Regions from separate parts of the Homo sapiens genome. Here region 1 is reported to be linked to region 2. Evidence: microRNA targets listed by miRTarBase, many of them from high-throughput screens and not tested one by one. Region 2 holds a microRNA gene; the other region holds the end of a gene's coding sequence.
What was found. The annotated mature microRNA hsa-miR-4687-3p reads UGGCUGUUGGAGGGGGCAGGC and lies in region 2 at 1,584-1,604, opposite strand. An mRNA with a match to its seed (bases 2 to 7 or 8) in the 3' UTR can be bound and repressed. Matches are read on the target gene's strand: a 7mer-m8 pairs with bases 2 to 8, a 7mer-A1 pairs with bases 2 to 7 and ends in A, and an 8mer does both.

Region 1 (3,000 bases), not on the chromosome of region 2:
TCACACCGCACAGAACATCAGAGAACACACACAGGAGAGAGACCCTTTGTCTGCAGTGAATGCGGGAAATCGTTTGGTGAGAAGTCATACCTCAATGTACATCGAAAAATGCACACAGGAGAAAGACCGTATCGTTGCAGAGAATGTGGAAAATCCTTCAGCCAGAAGTCATGCCTCAATAAACATTGGAGAACTCACACAGGAGAGAAGCCCTATGGGTGCAATGAATGTGGGAAAGCTTTCTACCAGAAGCCAAACCTCAGCAGACATCAGAAAATTCATGCTCGGAAGAATGCCTACAGGAATGAAAACTTAATAATTGTGGGAAATACTTGAGCAAAATATCTGGTTTCATGGTATGTAGGGAATTTTTTTTTTTTTTTTTTGAGTTGGAATCTCACTTTGTCACCCAGGCTGGAGTGCAGTGGCGCGATCTCGGCTTACTGCAAGCTCTGCCTCCCGGGTTCACGCCATTCTCCTGCCTCAGCCTCCCGAGTAGCTGGGACTACAGGTGCCCACCACCATGCCCGGCTAATTTTTTTTTTGTATTTTTAGTAGAGACGGGGTTTCACCGTGTTAGCCAGGATGGTCTCGATCTCCTGACCTTGTGATCTGCCCGCCTTGTCCTCCCAAAGTGCTGGGATTACAGGCGTGAGCCACCGCGCCTGGCCGGTATGTAGGGAATTTATCCTTAGGAGAAATCTTATCATTTTAATGAATTTGAACAGTGTGTTTTTATTTTATTTATTTATTTATTTTGAGTTGTATTCTCTGTTTCCCAGGCTGGAGTGCAATGGCACTATCTCGGCTCACTGTAACCTCAGCCTCCCAGGTTCAAGCAGTTCTCCTGCCTCAGCCTCCCAAGTAGCTGGGATTACAGGCACCTGCCACCACGCCTGGCTAATTTTTGTATTTTTAGTAGAGATGGGGTTTCACCATGTTGGTCAGGCTGGTCTCTTTGGCTAGGCTGGTCTCGAACTCCTGACCTCGTGATACCCCCCAACCCCCCGCCCTTGGCCTCCCAAAGTGTTGGGATTACAGGCATGAGCCAACGCGCCCAACCGACAGTGTTGTATCATAATGGAAATCATGATCTAATTGTGATACAAACTTTTCTAGAAAATACTTTCTCAAACATAAGCATGGACACCCTGGCATGTAAACGTTTAAAAATGTATTAAATGGAATAACAGCAGAATACAAAATATCTGTGAAGAGACTTAAAGGCATACTCTGGTATATTCCACAGTGAGCCATACAATCAGCATTATTTGTATTTTGGAGTTGTAAATGTGAAATTAACATAAAATGTGAATATCAGACACATGTCACACAACATATAGAATGCCATTCAGAAAACTTTTCCACTTTAAATATCATCATTGTCTTTTGATGTCTTAACAATACAAAAAAATAACAACAACATGGCCCACTATTGTTAAAAGAACTTTATTATACCAGCTACATTTTTCCACCTTTTTGTAATACATGTAAATGGCTATAGAGGTTGTTACTGTCCTCTGCAGAAATAATAAAGCAGTGTTTTTAAATGTATTTGGATAATTTGGCCAAAAATTTTACTAAAATGTAGTTATTTATATTAAAAATGCAAGCTAAGGAATAGTTTAAGAACCTGATACTGGGTAAATGAAACACTGTAAACTATTTGACAAAATGTAGTGTCACCCTGGTGTACAGTACACTGTTCATATTTTCTTAGTCTTGCTTAAAATATCTTGTAGCAAATTAGTAGCATTGCTACACTATTCTAGATACACTATTCTATATACAGGTTGTATAACTCAGAAATGTTTCATGCGTAGACCACTGAAGGAGAATTTCTTTTCTCTCTATCCCTCTGCAAATTAATTCAAGAATATTCATTTTTTTCATATAAATTTCCTTGCAAGTGTCCTAGACACTAAATCCCAAGGTTTTAATTATTTCAATGTTTGGAAAGAAGTCTGCTTCCCTGAGTTGCTATGTCATCCATATTAGAAAATAAATGGCCATGTGGAATCTACATTTTTCAAGATTTCCCTCCATGTAAGACTGCCTGATCCAGAATGAGAAAGGAGACATAACCACAGATATCAATATGATTTTTTAAGTGATAAAAAGATACCTCATACAACTCTAATCAACATATTTTTTAAAAAGAGGAGGTGGATGCTTTTCTAATAAACTTAAGTTATGAAAACTGCAATAAGAAGTAGAAAACTTGGTAGGATAGTTAACATTGAAAAACTCAAAAAAGCTATTAAAGATCTATAATGGGAAAATGCTCCAGGCTCAGAAGAGTTCATGCTTAGTTCTATCTTTTAAAGAAAGAGTAATACCAGTGTTATTTATTATATGGATGTAATACAATCCATGAACTGTACTCATTTATTTTATTAAGTCAGAATAAATTTTAACACCAAAATCAAATACAGATAGTTGAAAAAAGAAAACTTCTGCTGGGTGCGGTGGCTCACGCCTGTAATCCCAACACTTTGGGAGGCCGAGGCAGGTGGATCATGAGGTCAGAAGTTCGAGATGGTGAAACCCCATCTCTACTAAAAATACAAAAATTAGCCGGGTGTGGTGGCACACACCTGTAGTCCCAGCTACTTGGGAGGTTGAGGCATGAGGCAGGAGAATTGCTTGTACCCAGGAGGTAGAGGTTGCGGTGAGCCAAGATCGTGCCATCCAGCCTGGGTGACAAGAGCGAAACTCCGTCAAAAAAAAAAAAAAAAAAAGAAAACTTCAGACCAGTCTTACTCATGAATATAGAAACAAAAATTATAGTTAAAATACTAGCAAATAGAATTCAGCCATATACCCAAAGAGTGACATAGTAAGAGTCATCCCAAGAATGCCAAACCAGTTCAGTTAATAGGAAATGCATCAATCAAATTAACAGTTTAAAGGAGAAGAATCATATGAACTCTCAACAGATACTGAGAAGGCATTTCATAGAATGTGTTAATTTACATTGTAATAGATGGGAACCACTTA
Region 2 (3,000 bases):
CAGCAGGTGCCCACTGAGCCATTCCCTCATTTGAACTTGCTTATGCTCAGAAACAACTCATCTATAAACTCTCCCCACACTGCAGGTCACAGCTTTGGGCAGATCACAGCCAAAGGGTGAGAGAAATGGGAAAAGAGAACTGATCTCGTAAGCCTTATGTAAAATGACTGGATTTTAATAGAGTTCCTTGATGGGTACAGTGGCTCACACCTGTAATCCCAGCACTTTGGGAGGGATCCCTGCACAACACAGAGAGACAGTGTCTGTTCAAAAAATTAAAAATAGAAAGAAAAAAAAAGTTAGCCAGGCCCAGTGGCTCTTGTGTTTAGTCCCAGCTACCGGGAGGCTGAGGCAGGAGGATCACTTGAACCCAGGAGTTTGAGGCTGTAGTGAGCTGTGATCACACTACTGCATTCCAGCTTGGACGACAGATCAAGACCCTGTCTCAAAAAAACAAAACAAAACATAAAAGTGTTCCTTTCTACTGCAAAAGTATACCAGGGCTCCTGCTGCCTGATAAGCCTTCACAACTGCATAGGAAAAACCATGACAGATCAAAAGTAGCATGGTTTCCCTAGCAAGCAGACTCAGGGAAAAAAAAAAAAAAACAAAAAAAAAAACCTGTAGCATGGAATTCCCACCCTCATCAGTCAGAAGAAACAGAATAAGTCAACAAGTGGTCCCAGGAATTATATCATGTCTATGTCAAGAAAAGGCCATTTAACACCCTAGTTGTAAATAGGATTCCATCTAAGAAACCGCCTGGATATTTCAAATGCGCACAGCAAAGAGACAAGACTACCTAAGGGAAGGGTGGGACTAGGGTTCCCACGGTTGTTGGAATAGGCACACCTGAACACCAGGCTTTCAGGCAACAGAGGTGGCCCAGCCTTAACTTTCCCTTTCCAACATAAGTGGCCCCAACCTCCCCCATGCTGCTCAGTACTAAAACCGAATAGGAGCAATGAACTTATCATCTCACCAGGCCATTCTTCCAGACAAGTAGGCCTAAGATGGGGTCTTTCCTTGCTGATCTAAAAGGTCAAGTTGCCCCAAAGGCTTCTTCTTACTGCCAACAAAAAAAATCCTGAGTGCGGGGGATGAGGAAAGTTGTTCAGGAAAGATACAGGCATTTGCCATGACTACTGACCAGAAAGAACTTCTTGAACTACTTGGAACAGGCAGTGCCATGTGTGAATCCTCCATGAACCTCACATGTACAAACCTAGATTTCAACTTGCCCACTTCGGGCCACTCAGTCCTGAGCCAAAGCCTCCAGCCCAGTCCAGCCCGCAGCAAGGCCTTACCTGCTGCAGTGGACTCCTCAGAGTTGGCCCCCGAGCTGGTTCCTGTCGCCTTCTCACTGTGACTATGGCTGAGGCTCTGGCCCTGGTGCAGGAGGAGTCCCCAGAGGAGCCACAGGGCAAGACGGACGCATACATCCATGACTCTAGGTCTCAGTCAACATGCGTCTGATGTGGACACCTCGGGATCCCAGAGGCAAAGCCAGGAGCCCGGGAGTGCAGCCGACGGTCTCCAGGCAAGATGCCCTCGCGGCTCCGCAGCTGTCCAGCCACCCGCGAGCCTGCCCCCTCCAACAGCCAAAGGTCAAGTGCTCCAAGTTTGGGTGCGGGAGGAGGGCTGGCTCCTCAGGTCCAACAGTGGGTCCGCCGGGGCTGCGGCGGCCTGAGCTCGTGCCGCTTCCGGAGACTTCGGGCAGGGTGGCTGCGGGGCTGCTGTCAGCTCCGCAGATTACTACACCCCTGCGGAAGGGGGCGGCCGGAGTCTCCGCGGGCACAGAAGTGGAGGAGGAAGAGAAGAGAAGAGAAGAGAGGCGAGAAGGGGGCACCTGACCTCGCCCTGCCGAAGAGCGGCGAGCAGCAGAAGCTGGGGAGGGCGTGCGACCCGCAGGGTCCTGAGGGCGCGGGCGTCTCCGGGATCCTGGGCCTCCTAGGCCGAGGTCAGCGCCCCCGCCCAGTCCCGTGCCCAGGCGGCTGGCGGTGCCCAGGTCCAGCAGGCGGACGCACACCGGCCAGGCCCAGGACAGCGGCTTCCAGGCGGGCGGGCGGCGCGGGGCGGGCCCGGGGCGGGCGGGGGCGTGCGTCTCCGCGCCCGCCCCGCGCCGCCCGGTCCCCAGCGAAGCCCGGGCCAGCCCCAGCGCCCAGCTGGATCCCGGAATAACCGGTGAAGACGGCTCCCCGGAATCCCCGCCCCTAGCGGGCTCTCCCGGACCCCCGGCCCGCGCTAGTCTTTGCCAGGATCCCGCGCAAAGGATCAAGTCCCAGCTTCCCTTTCCCCACCGAGAGTCTCCAGCGCCAACCGCGGGCCGTCGGGCGGGTCCCTGACCCGCAGTTACTCAGGTAACTCAGGCCTGCGGCGGCGGCGACAGCAGCTGCCCTGCCCCGATCTCCGGGCCTTGGTGCTGCTCCACTCGCCTCAGTTCTAGAGCTGTCTAAACAGAGGCCCAGGACACGACGTTAGCCTCCCAGGAGCTGCCTGAGGCGACAACAGCCTGACCCGGCTCGGCCCGGGGGCGAGCTCCCAGCCCCCAACTCCCGGCCAGTTCCCAGGCTCCGCCCTCGCGCCTCGCCTGACAACCAATCGGCTTCCGCCTCTCTGCGGCTTGGGAACCCGCGCGCTTCGTCGCCCATGCGCAGCGGCCCCTGGTGGGAAAATCAGCAAACTGCAGACAGGACTCGGCGCTCCTGGGAGGGCCTGCTCTTTTGCAGAGGGTTGCCGAGTGAAGCTAAGACCCGCCCCGGGGGAGGCCCACGAGGGCCACTGGGGCCTGCGAGTGTTTTCTGAGGAAATGATGATGCCAGAAAGCAAAATGAAATGTCCAAACCACTCTAGCTAAAATTCCCCTACACATTCCTTGAGTCTGGGCTAAAGGGTGCCATCTGCTTTCCCGACCCCGCCTCCCTTCCCCTCCAAGCTAAGTGGGATGCCCTCCCTTAGCTCTCACAGCCCTTTTTCCTACCTGCCCTCAAGCTCTCAGCC

Region 1: the mRNA of ZNF793 is a reported target of hsa-miR-4687-3p. The part of its 3' UTR that is shown has no 7-base or 8-base seed match.

The regions. Positions count from the first base shown.
Region 1 is chr19:37,537,544-37,540,543 of GRCh38, forward strand. ZNF793 (zinc finger protein 793) reads left to right here. Exons shown (of 8, transcript NM_001013659.3): 8 at 1-3,000. The coding sequence ends at 336. The region is part of intron 1 of LOC124904708; the gene reads right to left. Among named protein-coding and RNA genes, the nearest start is that of ZNF571-AS1, 9.9 kb to the right of the region's middle.
Region 2 is chr11:3,854,717-3,857,716 of GRCh38, reverse strand. It overlaps MIR4687 (microRNA 4687), which reads right to left and starts at 1,655; the gene lies at 1,576-1,655. STIM1 (stromal interaction molecule 1) reads right to left here and starts at 2,053. Exons shown (of 13, transcript NM_001382567.1): 1 at 1,308-2,053. The coding sequence starts at 1,446. It overlaps STIM1-AS1 (STIM1 antisense RNA 1), which reads left to right and starts at 2,139. Exons shown (of 2, transcript NR_183662.1): 1 at 2,139-2,360. RefSeq lists enhancers at 1,138-1,187, 1,198-1,277, 1,428-1,637, 1,853-2,798 and silencers at 1,858-2,017, 2,078-2,137, 2,618-2,667.